Homo sapiens: one gene and its partners. The gene in region 5 interacts genetically with the main gene of each other region. Each region holds a gene or a part of one and is shown on either strand. Other genes may lie near its edges. The genes, in order: TIPIN, REXO2, TIMELESS, ASCC3, GFI1B, MED9 and NDUFA8.

Evidence for each region.
Region 1: changes in GFI1B (region 5) and TIPIN together harm fitness more than expected from each alone (negative genetic interaction), as found in Homo sapiens cells (one large-scale study listed by BioGRID).
Region 2: changes in GFI1B (region 5) and REXO2 together harm fitness more than expected from each alone (negative genetic interaction), as found in Homo sapiens cells (one large-scale study listed by BioGRID).
Region 3: changes in GFI1B (region 5) and TIMELESS together harm fitness more than expected from each alone (negative genetic interaction), as found in Homo sapiens cells (one large-scale study listed by BioGRID).
Region 4: changes in GFI1B (region 5) and ASCC3 together harm fitness more than expected from each alone (negative genetic interaction), as found in Homo sapiens cells (one large-scale study listed by BioGRID).
Region 6: changes in GFI1B (region 5) and MED9 together harm fitness more than expected from each alone (negative genetic interaction), as found in Homo sapiens cells (one large-scale study listed by BioGRID).
Region 7: changes in GFI1B (region 5) and NDUFA8 together harm fitness more than expected from each alone (negative genetic interaction), as found in Homo sapiens cells (one large-scale study listed by BioGRID).

The regions. Positions count from the first base shown.
Region 1 is NC_000015.10:66,353,886-66,358,026, reverse strand, and holds the start of TIPIN (TIMELESS-interacting protein), read left to right. Parts: upstream 1-1,341; 5' UTR 1,342-1,388; exon of another isoform or gene 1,389-1,884; intron 1,885-3,905; exon of another isoform or gene 3,906-4,029; intron 4,030-4,141.
Region 2 is NC_000011.10:114,438,006-114,442,266, reverse strand, and holds the start of REXO2 (oligoribonuclease, mitochondrial precursor), read right to left. Parts: upstream 2,801-4,261; 5' UTR 2,739-2,800; coding exon 2,592-2,738; intron 1,612-2,591; coding exon 1,528-1,611; intron 1-1,527. UniProt on the Homo sapiens protein: 3'-to-5'exoribonuclease that preferentially degrades DNA and RNA oligonucleotides composed of only two nucleotides. Binds and degrades longer oligonucleotides with a lower affinity.
Region 3 is NC_000012.12:56,425,427-56,428,926, forward strand, and holds part of TIMELESS (protein timeless homolog), read right to left. Parts: coding exon 3,457-3,500; intron 3,227-3,456; coding exon 3,123-3,226; intron 2,980-3,122; coding exon 2,810-2,979; intron 1-2,809. UniProt on the Homo sapiens protein: Plays an important role in the control of DNA replication, maintenance of replication fork stability, maintenance of genome stability throughout normal DNA replication, DNA repair and in the regulation of the circadian clock.
Region 4 is NC_000006.12:100,846,830-100,850,329, forward strand, and holds part of ASCC3 (activating signal cointegrator 1 complex subunit 3), read right to left. Parts: intron 1,879-3,500; coding exon 1,319-1,878; intron 1-1,318. UniProt on the Homo sapiens protein: ATPase involved both in DNA repair and rescue of stalled ribosomes. 3'-5' DNA helicase involved in repair of alkylated DNA: promotes DNA unwinding to generate single-stranded substrate needed for ALKBH3, enabling ALKBH3 to process alkylated N3-methylcytosine (3mC) within double-stranded regions.
Region 5 is NC_000009.12:132,988,694-132,992,187, reverse strand, and holds the end of GFI1B (zinc finger protein Gfi-1b), read right to left. Parts: intron 3,128-3,494; coding exon 2,990-3,127; intron 2,513-2,989; coding exon of another isoform or gene 2,447-2,512; coding exon 2,281-2,446; intron 1,451-2,280; coding exon of another isoform or gene 1,431-1,450; exon of another isoform or gene 1,349-1,430; intron 1,317-1,348; coding exon 1,138-1,316; 3' UTR 501-1,137; downstream 1-500. UniProt on the Homo sapiens protein: Essential proto-oncogenic transcriptional regulator necessary for development and differentiation of erythroid and megakaryocytic lineages.
Region 6 is NC_000017.11:17,487,000-17,490,360, reverse strand, and holds part of MED9 (mediator of RNA polymerase II transcription subunit 9), read right to left. Parts: intron 1-3,361.
Region 7 is NC_000009.12:122,153,280-122,156,779, forward strand, and holds part of NDUFA8 (NADH dehydrogenase [ubiquinone] 1 alpha subcomplex subunit 8), read right to left. Parts: intron 1-3,500. UniProt on the Homo sapiens protein: Accessory subunit of the mitochondrial membrane respiratory chain NADH dehydrogenase (Complex I), that is believed not to be involved in catalysis. Complex I functions in the transfer of electrons from NADH to the respiratory chain.

The DNA of each region.
Region 1 (4,141 bases), on a different chromosome or scaffold from region 5:
GTCAGCCTCTCAAAGTGCTAAGATTACAGGCATGAGCCACCAAGTCTGACCAAATAACTTTTTTTTTTTTTGAGACAGAGTCTTGCTCCGTCGCCCAGGCCGGAGTGCAATGGCATGATCTCAGCTCACTGCAACCTCTGCCTCCCAGGTTCAAGTGATACTCCTGCCTCAGCCTCCTAAGTAGCTGGAATTACAGGTGCGCGCCACCACGCCCGGCTAATTTTTGTATTTTTAGTAGAGATGGGGTTTCACCACGTTGGCTAGGCTGGTCTCGAATTCCTGACCTCGTGATCTGCCCGCCTCGGCCTCCCAAAGTGCTGGGATTACAGGCGTGAGCCACTGCACCCGGCCCCAAGTAACATATTTTTGACATTTTTTTTTGTTTACATTCACACTCTCTCGCTTTTTTTTTTTTTTTTTTTTTTTTTTTTGCGACAAGATCTCACTGTCACCCAGACTGGATCTCCAGCTGGATCGCCAGCAGTGCGATCCTAGTCACTGCCGCCTTCAACTTCTGGGCTCAAGCCATTCGCCTGCCTGGGCCTCCCAAAGTGCTGGGATTACAGGCGAGCCACACCGCACCTGGCCAGTGTCTATGTTCAGCCCTATTTTTCCTCTCTTTACCACCTCTTTTCTCAGCTTATTATTCAATAAACAATTCATAAAACTCTGAGTTCGAAGCATTCTGCTATGAACTCTGAAGAAGCGGTAATTTCTTATTCACTATTGCTTGCCTCTGTCCTTTTTCCTCCTCCCACAACTCAGTTTTCCAAAAACCGAGACCTATTTCCAAGGTTTAAAGTGCCGGGCACAGTGGCTCACGCCTGTAATCCCAGCACTTTGGGAAGCTGAGGTGGGAAGATCGCTTGAGCTAAGGAGTTCGACACCAGCCTGGGCAACTAATCCCCGTCTTTGCAAAACAAACAAACAAACAAACAAAAACCCATTAAAACAAAAATTCGGTGTGGTGGTGTTAGTCGGGGAAGGGAGGCTGAGGTGGGAGGATCGTTTCAGCCCGGGAGGTAGAGACTGTAGTCAGCCGAGATCGAATCACTGCTCTCCAGCCTGAGTGATAGAGCGAGACTTAGTCTCAAGAAAAAAAAAAAAGAAAAACCCCAGAATAACAAGTATTAACTTTATGCAAATAAGGAGGCTTAACTGAGTTCCTCTGAAGAATTCAGTAGGGCGGAAATTGTGGGACCGAAGGCGGGACCGGCGTGCTGGGCGGAACCTGAGAGGCGGGTTTTGCAGGCTCCGCCCAGCCCCCCGCACGGATTTGGCGCCAAACGCTGCGGGCCCTTCTCGCCCCAGGAGTTCCCGAGTATCGCGAGAAGCGCGCTTAGTCTGCACGCCGAGGTCCGCGCTGTGTCCCGTGTTTTCTGCGTGAGGTGAGAGCTGGCTGGCGGGCCAATGAAGTTCTTGCGGGGAGAGGGGAGTCGGACTAGCCAGGGAGCCAGATGGAAGAGCCAGGGAGCCAGACAGACTAGCGGGAAAGCCTAATTGTCGCAGGAAGGGGGTCAGGAGGTTGGGGGGTCGACCTGACCCGGCCTGGAGAGGCGGGGAGGTGGGCGCGTGTCCCGGTTGCTTAGGTTTTGGGATGCCTCTTACTCTGCCAAGCCGCTTAGCGGGAGGGAACGTGTTCCTGATCATCTTTACCCCAGGCTTCTGTCCGGGGCGTGTCAATGTAGAAATCCCCCAGCGAATGTTGGATGAATGAATGAAGTTGAAGAGAGGGTAGGCGGGGAACGAGGATGAGGGGGACGGCTGGAGAAGAGGTATGGGAGGTTCGATGTTTCAGGGATGGCACCCAAGGGGGACATCGAGGCAGCACGGTAGCACTTCCTTTGCGATGAGGGGCGTCTCTTTGGACTTCTTGGAAAAGAGGTGGGCATTGGAAACCAGGGTCTGGGAACAAACCGTGGTTTGGACATAACATTTGTTACCTTCACTCTTCTGGGAGTTGGAGAAGTAGAGGAGGAAGTTCAGACAATTTCATAAGTGTCTAAAAAGAGACAGTTATGCGACCATTGACGAGGAGTAAAAGTCGTCTATTGAGCATCTTATTCACTACAAATAGAAGAAAGAAATACCAGTTTCCTGACAAGCCCCACCCCATGCTTGGCCAGTTCCTGAGTACACTTAATATATTTTAGGTACTGTCATCAAACTCAAAGCTCGCTGTCAGCCTCAAAGGTCTGAACCCTAGTATAGATTCTTGTAGCTTGCTTGAAGTTACAGTGGGTCATGATCAGGAATTGATGCTTTGTTTTTGTTTTGAAACGGAGTCTCGCTCTTTCGCTCAGGCTGGAGTGCAGTGGCGCGGTCTCGGCTCACTGCAAGCTCCGCCTCCTGGGTTCAAATGATTCTCCTGCCTCAGCCTCCCGAGTAGCTGGGACTACAGGCGTGTGCCACCACGCCCCGCTAATTTTTTTTGTATTTTTAGTAGAGATGGGGTTTCACTGTGTTGGCCAGGCTGGTCTCGAACTCCTGACCTCATGATCCGTCCGCCTCTGCCTCCCATAGTGCTGGGATTACCGGCGTGAGCCACCGCGCCCAGCCGATGCTTTGCTTTTATATTTATGGTAACCGAAATTTAGAATTAGTGAGATTTTAAAGATCGTCTAACTCCAATTTGGGGAAACTGGAATTTTTTTTTGCATTCCATCATTCATCAAATATATATTGAGCACCTGGGGCCGGGCGCGATGGCTCACGCCTGTAATCCCAGCATTTTAGGAGGCCGAGGCGGGCGGATCACGAGGTCAGGAGATCGAGACCATCCTGGCTAACACGGTGAAACACCGTCTCTATGAAAAATACAAAAAATTAGCCGGGCGTGGTGGCAGGCGCCTGTAGTCCCAGCTATTCGGGAGGCTGAGGCAGGAGAATGGCGAGAACCCGGGAGGCGGAGCTTGCAGTGAGCAGAGATCGCGCCACTGCACTCCAGCCTGGGTGACAGAGCCCGAGACTCCTTCTCAAAAAAAAAAAAAAAAAAAAAAGATATATATTGAGCACTTGCTGTGTAACAGCATTGGGGTTCCAGCTGTGTAACACAGAGAGACTTAACCTCGTTGCCCTTTTTGAGCTACAGTCTAGTTTGGGAGACGAACAATAAATAACTGTATAAATAAAACCTGATATTGAAACTGGATAAGTGCCATGACACTTGTACTTGACACTATGAATGCTTACTAAAGAAGGATTTAGAGAAATTGAGGTAAACTTTTGAAAAGGTGATAGTTGAGATCTGGAAGATATTAGGAGTCAAGGAATAGCTTTTTCAAGACAGGAAATAGTATTTGTAAAGAGCCAGTGGCCTGAGGGATATAGCTCTTTCAAGGAAAGAAAAAGCATAGAGTAGTGTGAAGTGAGACTGGTGAGGTAGTAAGAGGCTGGATCACACAGGGCCTTGAAGTTTTGTCTTTATCTTAAGAGCAATCAGAAACCATTGAAATACTTAATCCAAGTGAGGTGATCAGCTTTATATTTTCAGATTCAGTCTAGATGTAATAGGGACAATTGAAGGAGACGAGTGGATGAGAGTAGTGGAGTAATGCAAGCAAGAAATGTTGGGAAGTGGTTATAGAGATAAGGAGAAATAGACAGATTCAAGGGATATTTAGGAAATAAGATGGGCAGGATCTGTGGGATAGGGGAAGGAATTGCTAAAGATGACTTGTAGGTTTCTGAATTGCATAGCTGGATAGATGTCATTTAATGAGTTAGGAAAATTTAGAAGTTTGGTTTTGTACCTGCTGAGTTACAGGTGCCTTTCAGGCGTTTAGGAAGTGTAAAATGGGAAGTAGTGATCTGGATCGCAGAGTCAAGGCCTAGGGTAGAGATAAAAATCAGGGAGTCATCTATAAATCAGTACTTATTAAAGCTCTGTGCATAAATGAATGAAGAAGCCCTAGGATGGAGTCTTGGATACTTAATGGCCGGGGTAGAAGATAAACCTGCAAAGAAAATCCAGGAGGAGTGCCCAGAAAGGGAGGAAAGCCTCAGCCTCCTGAGTAGCTGGGACTACAGGTGCGTGCCACAACACCTGGCTAAATTTTTTTTATATTTTTAGTAGAGACGGGGTTTCACTGTGTTGGCCAGGCTGGTCTCGAACTCCTGACCTCATGGTCCGTCTGCCTCT
Region 2 (4,261 bases), on a different chromosome or scaffold from region 5:
AGTAGGATGCCTGCTCTTCTACCAGCATAAAACATTTTTCTCAGACTCTTATAAAAGAATAAAACATACTGCAGAACTGATAGCCCCTAAGCTTTTTTTTTTTTTTTAACATCTTTATCCTCATCTGACTTAGTCCATTTACAAATGCTGCATTCATCTGCAGCTGTGTGAATACATACCCAAATTTCCTCCAGGGTACATATCAACCTACGGGTCCATTAAACTGTCAGTATTTCACATTATATCAACAGTCTAAAGGAAACACTCTTCTTCGGCCAAGGGTAAGTTAGACTGGTAAAATAAAGACACTTCTCTTCACTATTGATCTCCAATAAATCCCAAGTAACAGAAAAAAACAACCAAATCTAAAACTCAGGGCTTTATTTATACAAAGTTAAAAAAGTTGTTATGATGAGAAGTACAAAGTCTCATGATTCTCCTACAGTTGATATGTGGGGAGGATAAGCCTGGTACTCCACAAACGCAGTCATTAATCTAGAAATACGTCCTCACCTCTTTTACCTACACAGCAAAACAAACAAAAGTGTTAACTGCAGATTTACGAAATGTATCCAGTGCCAGTAACATATCAATGCTACCCTCTAGGAACTTATTTTAACAAGACTCTCTTTTCCACAAACATCCCTACTTTGTTCCTATTCTGGAGTTTCTGGCTCTGAATACTGCTGACAGTATAAAACAGAATTATTCAGGGTCAGGGATTTCACCCCCTACCAGATGGTGTCACATCCTTATTAAATGTTTCATGAGTGGCTGAAATGCAGCAGGTGTGTTTTGTTTTGCTAAATGTTTCAGTTGGAAGTAGCATGCAAAAACCTTAATCATGCCCAATCTGTCAACAACAGAACACTTTACGGGTGTGCACTAACAGAAATTCTAAAATCTTAATACTGATCTAGAAGAATCACATGTCCTAGTTGAAAAGGCAGAATTGTAAATATGGAGTCAAGTTAAAGTCAAGGTTATGATATAAAGACGCAAACATTGGCACGAGTCACCAAATCTGATGGGAGGACAGCTGGCTGTCCTACTTGTTAGGAGCACCTTACTGAGACAGCCTGAGTTAAACTCTTGGCTCCCCCAGTAAACAGCCACTGGGACCTCAGACAAATTACCCAACATCTCTATGCTCAAGTGTCCTCATCCATCAAATGAGCATTATAACAATAACTAACTTATAGTTGCTGTGAGAACTAAGAACAAAGACATATAAAGCACACAGAAACTGTAGCTGGCATACAGTAAGCGCTCAGTAAACGACAGAATTTATGTTTCTGTAAATTTCTGGCATGGTTAATTAAAAAATAATGTTTAATTTTTAATTTTCACTAGGCTGTGAGATGGATTACTTTGGTTCTAGTACCACCCCTACCATGACCTAGCACATTACCTTAACCCATATAGACCTCAACTTTCTTATTTTTTAAATAAAGAAGCTGGAAAAAATGATGGTTATATTTCCAGTGCCCTTTAAAAAGTATGACTGTATTACATGGCATCACGTACTTCAGCCAAAATGTTGAGATCAGAGTCAGTTATCAGACAGGCCATCTCAATAATCTGGTCCTTCTCAATGTCCAATCCTGTCATCTGCAATTAAAAATAAATATATAACACACACAAAGCCATCATTCTGGCCTCTTTTACCCAAGTTTATTTAACAGGAATTCCCTCAAACATAGTCAGCTTGTAATCCATAGCCGAAACAGAAGAGAAAGAATGCTCCTCGGGCAACTACTGAAGGTACTAAACACGAGTCCTCGTTTATTCAACAAACATTTACCAAGGGCCTGCTATTTGTCAAGCACTGAGATTCTACTCCGGGACAGATGCAAAGTAAGTAAAACTGAGTGCTGACATCACTCAGTTTTGGAAGAGTTGGATAACTACCACCACCACGTCTCTGCAGAGTTTACAAAGTTTTCACATTAATTACACCACTGGACCTTCACAATCTAATGGAAAAACTACTGTTATTATCCTCACTTCATATAAACTGAGGCTCAACGGTGGGAGGAGCCCTTGTTTCGGGCATGGAAAGCCTGAAGGGATAGGAACTGGGTTCTGGTCTCAACTCAGACTCTCACTAACAGCACGACCTTGAATGAGTTGAATCCTTTCTGTGGGCCTCAATGTTCTCACTTATGGAATGAGGGGTAAGGCTGAGTCATCTCCGGAGTCCCGTCTGGCCCTAACAACCTAGGGTCCTTTAAGGATTTAGTTGGGGGAAGCTGGGAACAGAGCCGCTGCCCCCGCCCCCACTCCAGTGACCCAAGCCCAGAGACGCCAGAGCGTTAGGAAAAGTCCACATCTGGGCGGAGGGGTAGGGAGGAGAAGAAGCCACACGGAGGACTCCTCCCTTGTGGAAAGAAGCCCTACAGCGCAGCACGGCGCCCAACACCCGCAGGACTCCTGCCTCCGGACTTGCCCTGCACCGCCCGTGGCCGGCCGCGCTCACCTGCCACACCTGAGACCCAGACCCCCAACGCTCTCCCAGGACGGGCTCGACTCCTCGGTTCCACGAGCGAAACCTCACTCGCCTCCCCAAGCCCCCCGCCGACCTCACTCACCTCCAGGTCCACCCAGACCATCCGCTGAGCCATGCTCTCCCCTGCCGCCATGGCTGCGCCACCTTCGCGGACACCTCGGGCCCCGAACCGTCCGTGACTCCCACCTACACCCCGCAACAGCCTGGAGCCCAGGGAGCCGCCTAGCATCACCCGGGACCAGCAGCCACGGCCCCAGTCTCGCAGCCGGCGCTGGCGCAGGCGCAATAGTCGCTAAACGTCGCAAACCCACGGGGAGGCGCACGAGCTGAAACCACACGTCCCAGCGTACGGTGCGCCGGCTCGCCCTCAACAGCCTGGCTTGGCTGCCGAAGGGAATGATGGGACTTAGAGTCTCACCTGCGGTTGCGACCAGATGCCCCACCCCCGCCACGTGTTTTTCTGGTGTTACTGGACGCGCTTGTTTTTCACTGCTAAGTTTGTTTGCTTCCAGGAGTTATTTCCTGAGTTTTGGTTAGTTGTAACCGCGCAGTTAAAAAAGAACTCTTACTTTGGTTGGTTGGAAAAGAGCTGATTATCTCTGTATGACATTTTTTTCATGTATATCTTTCCTTCTTTGCATTTCTTTTTCTTTTTTTACTTACCTGCCCCTCTATTCCACAAACTGGATATTTTCCTCATTTATTTGGGACCAAGAGGCAGTGTGCTTTTGGGGGCCAGAAGGCCATTAACATTATCATCAAATCATTTAGAAATATTTAAATAAGATCTTGTCTGAGAAATCATTTAGCACGTATCAGGTGTTCAGTCAAAGTTAGTTACCTTCCTTCTTTTTCTTATGGGAAAGCGGTCCAGATCCAGACCCAAAGAGTGGGTTCTTGGACCTCCTGCAAGAAAGAATTCAGGGCGAGTCCATAAAGTGAAAGCAAGTTTATTAAAAGTAAAGAAATAAAAGAATGCCTACTCCATAGGCAGAGCAGGGGCATGGGCGACCGAGTATACTTACACTTATTTCTTGATTATATGCTAAACAAGGGGTGGACAATACCGGGAACTGAGGGTTCTCCGCTTTTAGATCATATAGGGTAACTTCCTAAGGTTGCCATGGCATCTGTGAACTGTCATGGCGCTGGTAGGAGTGTCGTTTAGCATGCTAATGTATTGTAATTACTGTATAATGAGTAGTGAAAATGACTAGAGGTCACTTTGTCATCTTGGTTTTAGTGGGATTTGGCCAGCTTCTTTACAGCACCCTGTTTTGTCAGCAAAGTCTATTGTGACCCGTATCTTATGCTGACTTCCTATCCCTTCCTGGCACTTAGAATACCTAACCTCCTAGGAATGCAGCCCAGTAGGTCTCGGTGTTATTTTACCCAGCCCCTATTCAAGATAGGGTTACTCTTCAAATGCCTCTGACAATTTGGCCAAGGATTATCCCTTATTTCTTATGAAATGCGGCCTGCATTTCAGTTCACCTATTAGGTGTCTGCATGATGACAACTTGCTACTCTGTTCTTAAAAGTTCTCAAAGTTAAATTTCGTCCTCCTATAACAAATCTATGCAGCAAACTAACTTAAAATGAACTAAAACAGTTCTGCCTGCTCTGCCATCTTCTTGGGCTTTGATCCAGGTGTCTTTAATCTCCTGCAATGACTGCTATAATGTCTATCATTTCTAGGAGTCCAGGTGGCCAGCATCAGGACCTTTAGGCCCTGGAGTGTCAAATTTTGTG
Region 3 (3,500 bases), on a different chromosome or scaffold from region 5:
TGACCCATTTCCTGAGTTCAGAGGTTTGCCAAAAGCAGTGCTATCTCAAGAGGTCTACAGAATAAGCAGATGCTATGAGGATCAAATAAGACACATGGAAAAGCTTCATAAAATGCAAAGCACTATGTAAATAAAGCCTCTAATTTTTTCTCCTGAAAAGTAGGACAGCCAGGCGCAGTGGCTCACACCTGTAGTCCCAACACTTTGGGAAGCCTAGGCAGGTGGATCGCTTGAGGTCAGGAGTTCAAGACCAGCCTGGGCAACACAGCGAGACCCTGTGTCTACAAAAAATACAAAAATTAGCCAGGCATGGTGGTGTGTACCTGTAGTCCCAGCTACTTGGGAGGCCGAGGCAGAAGAATCGCTTGGGCACGGGAAGGAGAGGTTGCAGTGAGCTGAGATTCAGCCACTGCACTCCAGCTTAGGTAACAGAGCGAGACCCTGCTTAAAAAAATAAATAAATAAATAAATAATTAAAAAAAAGAAAAGCAGGAGAGTGAGTCAATACCCAAATCCTGCTTCTCCCAAGTCAGGGCTGTGAACCAGTCTTTGGTGTGGGTACTGAAAAGTCAAACAGGATGAACTGAGAGGCCCCTGAAGGTCATGCTCCATTAAAGAACTTACAATCAAACACACCAAAACTTAGGAGCATGGAGTCCAGCAGATCTGGATTTGAGTATTGAATTAGTATTACTAACAAGACTTTGGACAAGTTGCTTAACCACTTTGGGCACATGCGCTACTGTGAGGATTACATGAAAACGTCAGCACAGTGTCTGACACACAGTAAATGCTCAATAAATGATAGTACCTAGTATTACAGATAATACCACAGAGCTCTGAGTGCAAAAATACCCTTTAGCAAAGTCTCGTTGGTACTACTGCATCTTTCAAGTCCAGTTATGACAGAATTTTAAGCTGTAGCAACTAGAGTTATAGGAAGGTTCTGGTACAAAATCTTTTTTTTTTTTTTTTTTAAGACAGAATTTCACTCTTGTTGCCCAGGCTGGAGTGCAATGGCGTGATCTCGGCTCACTGCAACCTCTGCCACCTGGGTTCAAGCGATTCTCCTGCCTCAGCCTCCCAAGTACCTGGGATTACAGGTGTGTGCCACCACGCCAGGCTAATTTTTGTTTGTTTGTTTGTTTTTTGAGACGGAGTCTTGCTCTGTTGCCCAGGCTGGAGTGCAATGGCATGATCTTGGCTCACTGCAACCTCCGCCTCCCGGGTTCAAGTGATTCTCCCACTTCAGCCTCCCAAGAAGCTGGGATTACAGGTGCGCATGACCATGCCTGGCTAATTTTTGTATTTTTAGTAGAGACAGGGTTTCACCATGTTGGCCAGGCTGGTCGTGAACTCCTGACCTCAAGTGATCTGCCCGCCTCAGCCTCCCAAAGTGCTGGGATTACAGGCATGAGCCACCGCGCCTGGCCCAAAATCTGTTTATACAAAGCAAAGTCTCTGTGTTTCCAGGATACAAATTCCTTGGAGTTTGCATTTTGTCCCAGGGTTTTTTTTATTTTAATGTGAACCAATAATTTTATTTTTCAGAGATAGGGTCTTGGTCTCACCCAGACTGGAGTGCAATGTCTCAATCACAGCTCACTGCATCCTCAAACTCCTAAGTTCCAGTGATCCTCGTGCTTCAGCCTCCTGAGCAGCTGGGACTACAGGTATGTGCCACCATGCTGGTGAATTGTTTTTGTTTTTTGTTGAGACAGAGTCTTGCTCTGTGGCCCAGACTGGAGTGCAGTGGCATGATCTTGGCCTACTGCAACCTCTGCCTCATGGGTTCAAGCAATTCTCGTGCCTCAGCTTCCCAAATAGCTGGGACTACAGGTGCGTGCCATCACACCCAGCTAATTTTTGTATTTTTAGTAGAGAAGGAGTTTTGTCATGTTGCCCAGGCTGGTCTCAAACTCCTGGCCTCAAATGATCCACCCACTGTGGCCTCCCAAAGTGCTGGGATTACAGGCATGAGCCACTGTGCCCAGCCTGTCCTAGGCTTTTCACTGATTCCACTTTGGGTTCATGGACAACTGTCACAATCCCAACTTTATGGATCTGGAGACCGACACGACCAGCTTGAGCTTATTCCAATAATAACCAATACAGGACTAGATTCCAGACTTTCTAAAGTTCAATTTAAGGCTCTCTTTGTGTTGCTGTTGAGACAGAGTCTCACTGTGTCACCCAGTCTGGAGTGCAGTGACATGATCTTGGCTCACTGCAATCTCCACCTCCTGGATTCAAGCGATTCTGTCTCAGCCTTCTGAGTAGCTGGGATTACAGGTGTGCATCAACACGCCTGGCTAATTTTTGTATTTTTAGTAGAGACGGGGTTTCACCATGTTGGCCAGGCTGGTCTTGAACCCCTGACCTCAAGTAATCTGCCCACCTTGGCCTCCTCAAGCGCGGGGATTACAGGTGTGCGCCACCATGCCTGGCCGCAATTTAAGGCTCTTTCCACCTCACCACAATGCTTTCAAGGTATAACCAGAAAATGCTATAGCATAATTATTAGACTCTAAAATTATGAATCCCCAGGGTTTTTGTACTTGGCATGTGGTAGGTGTTCAATAAATGTTTCCTGACTGAACTAAAATATTTATGGCAGATCAGAGATTATTCTAATGGGAGAAGGAAACTGTAGTAGACTCACACTGGCCAACACCCACAAACCTCTTGCTGTCGTAGTTCAGAGCACGTTTAACAGATGAACTTAAGCTGTACAAACTGTGAGAAGAAAGAGCCCCCCTTCCTTGACTCTCCCTTACAGCTCTTTCTACATTGTGGGGCTGCCCAGTACCTGCACCACCAGGTTCCCACGGCTCCGACAGAATCGCTCCAACATTTTGAGGAAGAGGTGGGTGGTCTCCACCAGGTCACGAAGGAAAGAGCGGGGCTGGCATCTCTCATCAAACTTTCGAAAAAGTGCCAGGAATAGTTCTCGGTACTCCATCACATAGAAAATATTGTCTAGGAATGGGGAAGAGAAAGGGATGGAAGGGCTATTCTGGAAAGCTTGAAAAGGAGAGATGGATGAAGCTGGGACTGGGAAGAATGAGATTCTCATCACGAGATGGGACAGGCTGGGATCGGGGACCAGGCCAGGGCCTCACTCTTGATGATGCGGCTGCTCTCCCTCACAGCCTCATCTGGAGATATGTCCATCTCATTCACTGTTGCCAGCAGCTCCTGATAGGCCTTCAGAGCCAAGTGCATCCTGAGAGTTGACGGGAAACGGTGAAATGGAGGACAGCTTAGGGCAATGGCCCATGGAAACAGCAACTTCCCACAGCGAAAAAAAAAAATGTGCCACCCAAACTAAATTTCCCAGCCAGTCCTTGCTCCCCAGACTGATCACCTGAACCCTGAATCAGGAAAAAAGCACCAGCCAGAATTCAAGCATTCAGATCCCTAGCTCACTGTATCTCCAGTAACCATCCCACTCACCGGCGTGCCCAGGAGGCAGCTTCCTTGCGGTCAGTCAGCATCAT
Region 4 (3,500 bases), on a different chromosome or scaffold from region 5:
TTCTTTGCATGTAGTATTATAATACCTATGATATTTCAGTACAGTTACTTGTTGACATGTCTCCTCCTGCTAGACAATTAATTCTGAGAACAAGTTTGCTATCTTATTCATCCTTTTATGTTCAGTAAATAGCACTGTACCTAGCAATACAATAAGCATACAATAAATATATGACAAATGAAGCTATTATGAAAAAAATCTAGCACAAATACTCCCCTTCCAACAATCAGATTCAGTTACATACTTTAAAATTGTGGTGAAAGACTAAGAAATACAAACTTACTATAGATATTCAGAAGTGAAAGTAATGGTTTTATGGCTTACTAAGAAAATAAAATATCCATTAATTAGATATTTATAAATTTCAGTTTATTATAATCATAATTGGATAACTACTATGTATTCAATTATGATGAGCAAATATTAGTAAAATTTTCTTCGTAAATCACAATTTTTAAAACAATATTATGTTCAGAATGTTAGAGAAAATTTAATAGTGAGAACAGATCTGATAAAAATTAAACCAAGTGTAAAACATTCACAGTAAAAAGACTGATCACAGAATTAATGATATAATATCTTACTTCCAAACTAATGTTAGTTGGCATAACACCTATGGGTTAAGTCCTCCAATACCTACTTAGCTAATTCTCTAAATTAATTTTTCTCTGAAAAATACAGCTAGTATTTTTTCTGTATTTCCAATACTCAATGTGATTTAAAAATTCTTAATTCCAATAATAACGACAAAAATAATCACAGCTACCACATAATGATTATTTAACATGTTACTTACCATTTTGCATATATCACATTCAATCCTTATAACAATTATCTATCTTGATATTGGTGTCTCCTTGAGATAGCCCAACAAGAAAACTGAGCTTCTGAGAGATTAAGTTACCTAAAGTGTCACAACCAGTAAGTGGAAAGGGAAGAACAAACTGATTTCAAAGCCTGTCCTTTCTACAACAGTAGGCCATCCCTCTTAATCTTTCATGAAATATATTACTCATTCAATTTGTCCAGTATTAAAATTAAGTTGACATCAAACCAGCACTGTCCCAGTAACCAGAGCATGTGGACACCCAACTATTGTCTGCTTACTCCTCTGCTACACTCATTACACTTTCAGACCTCCTGTAACTATCCATTAGGAACGTATATACAGGCCTGCTATGTGAAACCATTTGGCTATAGATTCAACTACTATACAGAACATTAAAGAACTTTCTTTGCTAACCACCCATGTTTAAAAAACACTATTTCATTAGGATAGTTCACATTAATATAAAAAAATAAATCATTTCAACTATACCTCATCCTGAAGTTCATCACCACTTTTAATAGAAGCAAGCATATCATATAAAGTACAGCAAAGATCTTCTACTCTTGGCACTTCAGTCATTTCCTTCAAAGTTGAATTTAGGTACTTTTCAACTTCACACCACAAAAAGGAGCCATTTGTTTTTTCCACAGGCTTGAGTTCTGGGGTGCAAGCCTCCTGGAGATGTTCATTCAGAAACTTCTTATAATCTAGGCTTATAGTTTTCTGAGTTTCACCATTTATTGGCAGTTCGTCAAAGTGGTCCAAATCATGCATGTCAAATGAAAATGCTAAATTTTTACCAAAAAAAACCCTATCGCCATGTTCTTTTTCTGTCATCTGCACAAGAGCAGTAAGATCATCTTGACTAAAATGAGAAATAATTCGATTAGTAGCATTACAAGCTGCAGTGGCAGATGATGAAGGAAAGGGGCCAAACATCTGTTTGATAGCCTTTGTTTCCTTGTGACCAACAGAGTCCTTCAAGTGAAATGTCATGAAGAGAAATGCAGCCCCACTTTCAATTGCTTCTCTCCCATTATCAGTTCCAACTATTCAAAGACAAAAGAAACAGTATTAGCTCAATTGAATCATGGTTCAAGTTACGATCTTCCAAAAAATTACCACAAATATTCTCCTGAGTAAATCTAACAGTCAAATCATAGCAATAGACCAGGTGTAATGGCTCCATATAATCCCCACACTCTGGAAGGTCAAGGCAGGAAGATCACTTGAGTCTAGGAGTTCAAGACCAGCCTGGGCAATATGGTGAGAACCATCTCTACAAAAATTTTTAAAAATTAGCCAGGTATGGTGGTGTGCACCTGTAGTCCCAGCTACTCAGGAGGCTGAGGTGGAAGGATTGCTTGAGCCTGGAAGGTTGGGGCTGCAGCGAGCCATGATTGTGTCACTGTACTCAGCCTGGGCAACAGTGTGAGACCTTGTAAAAAAAACAACAAAAACATAACAATAAAGACAGATAGCCAATTTAAGGAGCAGGAACCAACCCATTCCTGAAGAACTATTTATTTCCCAAAGAACTATTTTAGGTAAATAAATCATTATCAGTAATTATTATGTATCTAAGTGCAGAAACTACCTAGTAACAATCCTTACAGCTTCTTTCTAAAAACAACTTGAGACACTAGCTAAAACTCACTTTAAAACTAATTTTAAAGATTGATTTGATGAGCTAGTTAAATAAACCAAAGTAAGGTACAGAAAACAATCTGAATTATAGACTTTTGGAGCTTCAAGGAAACCTCAAATATCTATAATTTTCTTTCCAATTTGTACCATAAACCTGAGATGGCAAGAAATACTTCTATAGTTCTCATTCAAAAACATTTAATACCATCAAGGATATTTATTAAGCTGAAGATAAAGTTAGTCATATTATAAAATAAAAAAGAAAGCTCCTGTTTAAAAGAGGCTAGAAGTAAATATAAGAAGAATCAGCCTCTAATTTATTTAAGGCATTTTCTCATATCCAATTTTCTCAAATAAAAAAAAGAATCTGTATTTCTGACATGGGTTTCAAAGAATATTCTTAGAGAAGAAAAGAAGAATTTAAATCTTCAAAAGGCCCCAAAAGCTATGTGACTTACCTAAATACTGTTAAAGTTAATAATGTAATGAATACTGGTATCTTTCTAAAAAACATGACTCTGCAGTTGCTCCCGCCTGTAATCCCAGCACTTTGGGAGGCCGAGGTGGGTGGATCACCTGAGGTCAGCAGTTCGAGAACAGCCTGGCCAACATGGTGAAATCCCGTCTTTACTAAAAATACAAAAATTAGCTGGGTGTGGTGCCACACACCTGTAATCCCAGCTACTCGAGAGGCTGAGGCAGGAGGACCGCTTGAACCTAGGAGGCGGAGGTTGCAGTGAGCAGAGATAGCATCGCTGTACTCCAGCCTGGGTGACAGAATTGAGACTCTATCAAAAAAAAAAAAAAAAAAAAAAGAAGGAAACATGACTCCAGTATCATTATTCACAAATCTTCCACAGCTTACTATAGCTTGATCCAAGCTCCTACACTGCCAGAAGCTGACCCCAGCATTTTATTTTCCAGTCTTATTGGCTATTATATATTTCCTGCTCCAGCCAAAAAGAATTTCTTCACCAAAAACCACGTTCTACCCCACTCTATGCCTATTTCTATATCATACTGA
Region 5 (3,494 bases):
AGAGATCCAAGTTATGTGCTTTGAAGGCAGAGGAAGGGGCCAAGATCAGAGGCACAGACGGCCTTGGGAAGGTGAGAGACAGGAAAACAGACTCTCCTGGGAGCCTGCTGCAGGAATGCAGTCCTGCTAACACCTTGATGTTAGCCCCATGAGACTCATTTTGAGTTTCTGGCCTCTAGAATTTAAGAGAATAAATGTGTGTTGTTTTAAGCCACTAAGTTTGTGGTCATTTGTCACAGCAGCCACAGGAAACGGATACCGCCCCAGCTGCACTAGCCTTGCCCACCCCTGTGGTCTTGTCGCACGGGCCCCTTCTGCTTGCTCCTGGCTCGTCAGCGGGTCTGTGCACGTGGGGGCTGAGTACACTTCTCCACAACTTGCCTATGAGCACCTCCATGGCTTTCTCTGCTCCTCAAGCCTCCCCGCATCACTCCCCAAAGCCTCGTGCAGTACCCTGGACCTCATAGGCACTTAATAAATGCTGGTCACATGGCAGCAAATCTGTATCTTTAATTTTATTGACAGCAGTTGAGAGAACAGGCTTTTGACAGCAATAACTGCCAGTTTCTCCAGCCTCACGGCCTGGTTGTGGAGCTAGAATCCCCAGAGGCCAGCTGAGTGCTGGTCGGAAGTCGGAGTCAGCCAGCACATCTGGCCGAAGCAGAGGGGGTGCCAGGCTTCTGACTGGGGTGGGAGGCAGCTCCGACTCTGCCTGTTATAGCCAGAAAGAGGCCGGCTAAAATCCAAGGTGACCAGGTCCCAGCTCAGTGGGCAGCAGGCAGGTGGAGGTTCTGTCTGTGGGTCCCAGCTCTGGTCTACTCTTGGCATCCCTGTCTCCCTGGGGGTATTCTAGCTTTCTGTGCTCTGCTAGAGGAAGGCACTTGAGCACACCTGGAAACAACTTCTGCTGAGAAAGACCCAGCCAGGCTCCCACACTTGGCAGCAGGAGAAATGTTGATCCAGACAGGGTAAGTGACTTGCCCAAGGTCACACAGCAATTTCATGAGTCTCAAAACAAGCTGGTAGACTCCTGTCCAGTCCCACCTCCAGGAGACTGGAGATTTGGGCATGTGAGGCTGGCCTCCAGGTGACAGGACCGCAGGGCAGGCTGGCCAGGAGCTGGGAGCCGGCGCAGCCTCACTTGAGATTGTGCTGGCTCTCGCGGTGCCGCCGCAGGTCCACCTTGCGCTGGAAGCCTTTGGTGCACAGCTCACAGCTGAAGGGCTTGAAGCCTGTGTGCTTGCGGCTGTGGGTGATGAGGTTGGAGCTCTGGCTGAAGGCCTTTCCGCACACCTGGCACTTGTGCGGCTTCTCACCTGCAGGGAGGGCAGCGCAGCACAGCAAGGGCGGGGTCAGGGCCTCCTCACCAGGCCTGCTGCTCCCCTGCCCTGCCCCCGGGTTCATTTTCCAATACCTTCCTGTGTTTTCTCTCATGGCCAACTCACATTCACTTTAGAAAATAATTAGAAAAGAGAGAGAAGCAAAGATACAACTTGGACCCTCCTCCACCCCTACTGGATTATAGGGTGGTTAGGGGCAGCTGCCGAGTCATCTTGTTTATCAATACATCTCCAAGCCTGGTATACCTGGCACAAAAGAGGCACTCAGCTAATAGCAAGGAGGCAATGAATAAGCAAGTGAATGAATGAGTGAAGGAATGAATAAGCAAATGAATGAGTGAACAAATGAATGAGCAAATGAGTGAGCGAATGTGTGAATAAATGAGCAAATGAGTGAATGAGTGAACAAATGAATCAACAAATGAATGAATGAGTGAACAAATGAATGAGCAAATGAGTGAACAAATGAATGAATGAGTGAACAAATGAATGAGCAAATGAGTGAACAAATGAATGAATGACTGAACAAATGAATGAGCAAATGAATGAGTGAACAAATGAATGAGCAAATGAATGAATGAGTGAACAAATGAATGAGCAAATGAGTGAGCGAATGTGTGAATAAATGAGCAAATGAGTGAACAAATGAATGAGCAAGTGAGTGAGTGAATGAGTGAACAAATGAATGAGCAGTTCGCCTGCTAGTCTCATGTCTGCCATGAGATCAACAGTGTTGAGATTTTGCTGTTTCCTCCCTGTATTTTTTTCCATGCATTAAGTGCACTTAAGTAGCACAGGTGCCCAGCCCTCCATCAGCAGTGGCCTTTGACTTTGTAACTAGACCCCGCCCCCAGCCTCACGCTGGGGGCCTCTGATGCATCTCTCAGGGAAAGGTGGGGGTGCTCTGCCCAGGGGGCACAGGCAGGTGAGACTCACTCACCTGTGTGGATGTAGGTGTGCTTCTTCATGTCGGACTTCTGGTGGAAACGCTTGCCGCAGAACTGGCAGGGGTAGGGCCGCGTGTCTGAGTGGATGAGCAGGTGGGTGGACAGCGTGGACGAGCGCTTGAAGGCCTTGCCGCACATGCGGCACTCGAAGCTGCGCTCCTGCCGGAGGAAATGAGGCCCCGGGGGGTCAGGTGCAGGCTCAGGACTGGACCCGGCCGGGATCCCCTGCGGAACAGGACACTCCATTGGGGCGGCCTGGAGGAGCAGGACCGGGGGACCCCTCATCTCTGCCTCTGAGGTGAAACTGGGGCTTGGAGTCTCATTGGTCTCCTGTGGGATTTTTCCTTGTAATCTTCACGGTATCCCGCTCAAAATAAACCTCAATAAATGTTCGTTGATTGACTGATGGACTGACTGATCTCAGAGGTTCTTTAGGGGTTCACATTTCATGACCATTAACCTAGAGTGAGTTCCTTGAGGCAGGGATGGTTGTGGTCTGCACGGTGGTTTAGTTAAGAGTCTGAAGTTTGTTAAGGGCAGGTGTTGGAGACCCAGACCCAGGGAGGTGGGTACTAGGGGACCCCTCCCAATCTGTGTCACCCCCAGGGGCAGGGGGAGGGACCCAGCCACAGCCCCCAGGCTCCCTGGGGAAGCACAGAGAAGGAGTGGGGCTGGGAGTCCTGCGCTGGGCCAGGTGCCCACCTGGGAGTGGACGTGCGTGTGCTGCTCCAGGCTCACAGCGTGGCCGAAGGTTTTGCCGCAGATGTCACAGGCGAAGGGCCGGGTCCCACTATGGGAGCGTCGCACATGCACTTCGAGCCCGTGAGGGGTGGAGAAGACCTGGGAGCAGGGGCAGCATGTGAGGCCACTGGGGGCTGCGGTGACAGGGACAGGCCTGGGGTCCCATGGTCTCTTCCATGCCCAGCTCTGGCCAAGGCTGGGTACACAGAGTAAGGGGCACTGGATTGCCAGTTCTGCTGCTTGCTTGCTGTGTGTCCCAGGGAGGTCCGTTTGCCTCTCTGTGGCTCAGTCTCCCTTCTACAAAGTTGGATGTGAGAGAGGGGATCTGGAGGCCCCTCCTTGCCTCATCTAGAGGCTGAATAGCCCAGTGGTTAAGAGCTGGGAGTTGGCCGAAGCTGGGTTTGAATGCTGGTTCTGATATCTACTTGCTGTCTGATCCTGGAAAAGTGACTTAACCTCTCTGAAC
Region 6 (3,361 bases), on a different chromosome or scaffold from region 5:
CGGTTCAAGCAATTCTCCTGCCTCAGCCTCCTGAGTAGCTGGGATTACAGGCGCATGCCAACACGCCCGGATAATTTTTGTATTTTTAGTAGAGACAGGGTTTCACCATGTTGGCCAGGCTGGTCTTGAACTCCTGACCTCAGGTGATCCACCTGCCTCGGCCTCCCAAAGTGCTGGGATTACAGGCATGAGCCACCACACTCAGCTTCCTATACGTTTTTTAAAAGTTAGTAAGTGGATGAGCTTTTGAAAACAAGTGGTTGAGACCAAAACTAAAAGGCAATTCAGTAAGCTGTTCTGAAAGTAAGCCATTGAGGCATAAGAGGGAAAAACTGTCAATGATCATTAATTTTTTCAAATAAATGTTCATCCGTAGTGGGAAATTTCAACCCAGATGGTGCTAATTCATGTTTACTATTCATCATTTCTCTGCTTACGCAGGCAGAATATCCATCTTTCCTGGCGATCCATCAGTTACGTCTCACACCTTGCAAATCAGATGGCCACCATGGCCAGCTCAGTATTTACCAACAGCTCTAAACTCAGAGGGAGGGTATGGAGAATCAATCACTTCTTCCAGGAAATGAGAGGCCAGGAAATGATGCCCTCAACTGAGAGACACCATTAACAGTATACCTTATCGCAGATTCTAGAGAGGATGAACTGGTATTCATGAGAACTAAAAATCCTTTGGAAGGAAGCAAATAGGGAACGTCTTTTATTTTAATTCTTTGAAGTCTCAGCTCTGATCCACAAATGTGGACAGAAACCATCTGCACTTCTGAAATCCTTCTACTCGGATGGCATGCGTGTTAACATACCGTTACGAATTTAAGTCCCAAGGAAGTTTTAAAATTAAAATATAGTTTTTAAAAAAACCGACTCACATGAGTCTCAAAGGACATGGTAAAACAAACAAAAAAGTACTTAAAATAGAAATGTGGATGACAGATAATCCCATTCTTGAAGCAAACATAACCTGGCCCAAAAGAAAATTTAGTTCTGAAAGTTGAAAGTGGGTCATGTTTAAGATGCTCATCTCTGAAAACCCCCAAATAGCAAGGGTTGCGTGTTCTTTGGTGAACTTTCAGGAAAGGAGACAGTCTTCAGATAATAAAAAAGGAGCTGTAAGACAAGCCGCCTGGAGGGCAGCTGAGCCAAAAGGGGCCATGCAGCCCACAGGGAGGCCCCTCTGCAAGCCCAACTGCCCTAGTTGGTGGAGGTAAATAGCATGGAACTCCTGGAGTGAAGAGAACATGCTATTCAGAAGTGGGCATCTGCTAAGCCAGGATGACTGTGAAATATTCAAGCCAAAAGAAAAGGGACAGGACCAAATACCGAGTGAATAAAAGCAGAAAGCTCTAAGTGGGCCTACCTTTGTGTTCAAGGTTAGTCATCGGCCAACTATAGAAGGAATGAAAAAAGCCACTAGGTCAAGGAGGATGAACATCGTACAAACAAGGCAAGGTCAGAGCACTTTGGTCCCAACTACTGTGGTACTGTGGTTTCTTTTTTTCTTTTTTTTTTTTGAGACAGAGTTTTACTCGTTGCCCAGGCTGGAGTGCAATGGTGCGATCTTGGCTCACTGCAACCTCCGCCTCCCGGGTTCAAGTGATTCTCCTGCCTCGGCCTCCTGAGTAGCTGGGATTACAGGCATGCGCTACCACGCCCGGCTAATTTTGTATTTTTAGTAGAGATGGTGTTTCTCCACGTTGGCCAGGCTGGTCTCGAACTCCCGACCTCAGGTGATCCGCCCACCTCAACCTCCCAAAGTGCTGGGATTACAGGCGTAAGCCACCGCACCCAGCCCCCTACTATGGTTTTTTTAAAGAGTGGACAAAAATACTACCGCCAGGGGTGATCCTCTGAGCATCCTTCCCACGTCTGACAGACAGTTGTATCCGTGTCACCAGACTCAAAGGCAAACATCACAGGGTTTTAGGCAGGTGTCTGAGAATCATGCCCTGATTTTCTTTGTTCTTCTTTTTAGCATGGATGCTTTAGTACAGATGCAAACTGGCCAATAACTCTGCTAGAACCACTGACACAGACTTCCTCCCAAATCTGACAGTCATTTCTTTTGACCTTTTGGTGGCATCTGACTCAGTTTCCCATTTCTTCTTCCTCACAACTTCCATGCACTGTGCCTCACACTCCACTCTGTCCCAGCTGCCTTGCCCTCAGACCAGCCCTTACCAGTCCATTCCTCTGCCCACAGGCTCTCCTCGCACGGTACTAACTCCAGTGGCTTTCATTTTTCTAAGATCACTTTTTTAAAAAATGACAGTAATAGGTACTTGAGGGAAAAAATTCAAAAATGAGACAACCAAGGCTTAGAAAAGGGAAATCTCATTAACCCCTTGTTCCAGAGATAACCTCTGCTAACATGTGGTGTCCACTGTTTCAGATGGCTTTGAAATGTACAACAGCATACAAAACACACAAACTTTTCTTATTTGTTCTGACAGAAATGTGACCATCCATAGTTCTCATTCTTGCTTTTTCTACTTAACAAGGCACCTCAGATGTCCTTCCATGTTAACACATATACAATTAGACAGCGAAATTACCCTGGCTATTCATGGGTGGTTGTACTGTACTAGAATGACAGTGAACATCTTGTACTTATACCCTTATGTACTTGTGTGTCCGGAATTGGTGGGTTCTTGGTCTCACTGACTTCAAGAATGAGGCCACGGACCCTCACAGTGAGTGTTACAGCTCTTAAGGTGGCGCGTCTGAAGTCTGTCCCTTCTGATGTTCAGATGTGTTCGGAGTTTCTTCCTTCTGGTGGGTTCGTGGTCTCGCTGGCTCAGGAGGGAAGCTGCAGACCTTCGCGGTGTGCGTTACAGCTCTTAAGGCAGCATGTCTGGAGTTGTTCGTTCCTCCCGGTGGGCTCGTGGTCTCGCTGGGCTCAGGAGTGAAGCTGCAGATCTTCGCGGTGAGTGTTACAGCTCATAAAAGCAGCGTGGACCCAAAGAGTGAGCAGTGGCAAGATTTATTGCAAAGAGTGAAAGAACAAAGCTTCCACAGCATGGAAGGGGACCCAAGCGGGTTGCCACTGCTGGCTCCGGCAGCCTGCTTTTATTCTCTTATCTGGCCCCACCCACATCCTGCTGATTGGTAGAGCCGAGTGGCCTGTTTTGTCACGGCGCTGATTGGTGCATTTACAATCCCTGAGCTAGATACAAAGGTTCTCCCCGTCCCCATCAGATTAGTTAGATACAGTTTGGACACACAGGTTCTCCAAGGCCCCACCAGAGCAGCTAGATACAGAGTGTCGATTGGTGCATTCACAAACCTTGAGCTAAACACAGGGTGCTGATTGGTGTGTTTACAAACCTTGAGCTAGATACAGAGT
Region 7 (3,500 bases), about 11 Mb from region 5:
ATTAAATTAAATTAAATTAAATTAAAGGATAAATAAAACTCCCAGAGGACTACGGAGTCACAGAAGATGAGGCTGGAAGAGATCACAAAGAGCATCTAGTCCATCTAGTAATAGTCCATCTAGTAATAGTCCATCTAGTAATAACTAATAATAAAGTACTAAAATCTGCAAATTTTTTAAAAATCAGAGCGTATCCAAGGTTGCCACCCCTTTAACTATGCCCACCAGTTTTGCTCAATAGTATTTTAGTGATATTTTCTTGAGAAGATACACAGTGTAGATATAGCCAGCTCAGAGAGAACTGCAAACTGTCCAGGGCCTACAAACAGCTGCTTAAGCAAGAGACCTGTGGTCCCTTTTCTGTACTACCTTTTCTTATACCAATACCACAATGTTTTAATTACTGTCACTGAAGATAACATTTTGTTATCTGGGAGAACCATCCTCCTCATTCTTCCTTTTCAAAACTTTTTTGGCTATTCTTTCAGATGAACACCTTCCCCCAATAATTTGCATTCAAATTGTATTAAATTTAGTTATATGTTAAATTAGGGAACAATGGGCAGTTTTTATAATACTGGGTGCCTGCTCAAACTTCACATCCTCAGAGAGCCTCTCTCTAATCATCTTATATAAGCTATCATCAGTGGTCACTCATGTGGTCTGGTCTTAGCATTCATGTGCTAAGTCTGATCAATTCTAGACATACTTGTTCTTTCCTCTCTGTAAGCACAGTTTCTGTGTTAAGCACCAATTACACTGGGGTCATTAACATCTTTCTCAATAATTTTAAGAGCCCCTGAGTGGTCTGTGTGTGACTAGAACATAAGCTCCCAGAGGGAAGGGATTTTGTTTTCAACAGAGATCCACTACTGTAAAGATATCAATTCTCCCCAAATTAAGCTATGGTAATTAAATATAATGTTGACTACGGTACACACCAAGCACCCAAAATAGTGTCTAGCACAAGTAGCTGTTGAGCACCCACTCTTTGCTAGAAAATGGGGATACAATAATTAGAAAACAGATATGAATACATCAATCACACCTTCTCATCCACAACACAGTATTTCTCTCCATTTATTCATATTCAAGTCATTCTTGTCCTTTGGTTAAAACTAGTTTCCTTCATTATAGGGACCTTGAACATTTCTTGTTTATTCCTCAGTATTTTAGCACTTTTGATACTATCTAAATAGGATAGTTTTTCTATTAGACTTTCAAACTGTTTACTGCTTGCTTGTATACTGTATTTTCTCTCCAGCCATCTTACTGAACTCTTGTTAGTTCTGACACAAAACTCAAGAAGATTAACAGAAAAACTGCCATTTACAAATAAAAACTGTCTCTTTCCCTTCTGCTACTTTATTTTTTTCTTCTTATTCTCATTTCCTATTTTATTGCTTTAACCAACCCCTTCAGGACAATACAGACGAAGAGCAATGACAGCAGACAACCTTCCCTTTTTCTAAAATTAAAAGCAAGTTTGGTATAATATTTGCTGTTGGTATCTGGAATATAGTTGTTTGGATATTCCTTGTTAAGAAAGCTTCTTTCTAATTCTAATTAGTTTTGCTTTACTGTTGTTTTCTATACCAGAAAAGACTAAAATTTTTAGGCTTCGTTTTCATTAATTTATAAATGTAACATAGAGCATTAACAGATTTTGTAAAACTGATCCAATGTATTTCTAGAATAAAATCTAGTCTGTCACAGTGTATTATGCTTTAATACTCTACTGAATTTGATTTGTAAAATTAAAAATTGTTGTGTGAGAACAGTCTGTAATTTTATTTTATTTTATTATTATTATTTTTTTGAGACCGAGTTTCGCTCTTGTCCAGGCTGGAGGGCAGTGGCGCAATCTCGGCTCACCGCAACCTCTGCCTCCCAGGTTCAAGTGATTCTCCTGCCTCAGCCTTCCTGAGTAGCTGGGATTACAGGCATGCGCCACCACACCCGGCTAATTTTGTATTTTTGGTAGAGACGGGGTTCCTCCATGTTGGTCAGGCTGGTCTCAAACTCCTGACCTCAGATGATCCTCCCGCCTCAGCCTCCCAAAGTGCTGGGATTATAGGCGTGGGCCACCACGCCCAGCTGTAATTTTATTTTTTATGCACTTTATGCAGCTAGGTTATTAATAAAAGGCAAGGAAAGATGACAAGAGTAATTAATCTATACACTATAGAAAGGAGAATAAAGTTATGACTATGTCTATTAATAGTGCAACTGTTATAATTATCAAAGATAAAGTTATGACATAAGTGAAATCTGCCATGATGACTCTAATAAATTTATGTTTAAAATCTGTAAAGTTTTCATATTAAAGTTTTTGAAAATAAAAGAATTTATTTAGGTAAACTGGCACACATTTGCTTGTTTTATTACCTATAAACAGCTAGGAGAATAAAAACTAACACTCAAACTTTTTTAAAAGCTTAATATATTTTAATAATTAAGTCAGTTATATTTACTTGTCATATGCCTTAAAAGAGCTTTAACTGGCTGATTCAATTATTCAAAGGCCCAAAACTATACGGCCCAAAAAGACTGACGCATTATTTATTTCCCTACAAATGTGGAAATCTTATCAAAATGAAGGTATACACATGTTGCTGAGCATATAAAACACCATCCCTGTCACAGGAAAATAAAGGAAGACATTGAGTCTGTTTCGTAATTAATGAAAAAGAGGGATGTGCTAGAGACAACACAGTGAGTCAGTGGCAACCCCAGAACTAGAACACAGAGATTGTGACCTCCAACCAGGCTTCTTCCCATTATATCACCATCACTGAGGTGGATGAGCCTGAGATGTCACCATATCCCCTCACCTGCTTCTTCACTGAGACTGATGAATTCCAACAGAAACAACATCCTTTCACAGCTGTTTACCATGAATACCGTCTCAAATTCATTCAGATCTCTTTGTCTCAAACAACACAGAATTTCAACATCCTTCTCATTTATTCTCACAACAGCCTCATTGCACAGCAGGGCTACACAGTCTGCAGGTGTGGAAACTGAGACAAAGTCACCATCTAGAGCCAATCAACCTTCTAGTCCTGTCCTTGTCTCCTTAAACTACGTCTGTACCTCTTTTTATAGTACTTTATTTATACCATGCCTTGAGTTTTCCTAAATTTATGTAAAACAGAGAATAGTACTTAATAGAACTGTTATGAAGATTAAATGAGTTAATATATATAAAAATAATAAGAACAGTGCCTATCACATCGAAAGCACACCATAAATATTAGCTATTTTTATTTTTACTCAAAATTATCAAATGTGTCCAAGGACTTTCCAGTCCAAAGCTTCTGACTGCTTTTTCAATGGGGATGTGTCATAACTCCTAAGCCAATGAGGTCCAAAATGTATTTAACTCGCTCTCCAAACGGGCTCCTTTTTCTGGCTTCACCAGTACTATTGCCACGCTGCAAATCTGACTTTGATTCTTCAACCTTCCCTACCTCCAATATCTAATCCATTGCTAAGTC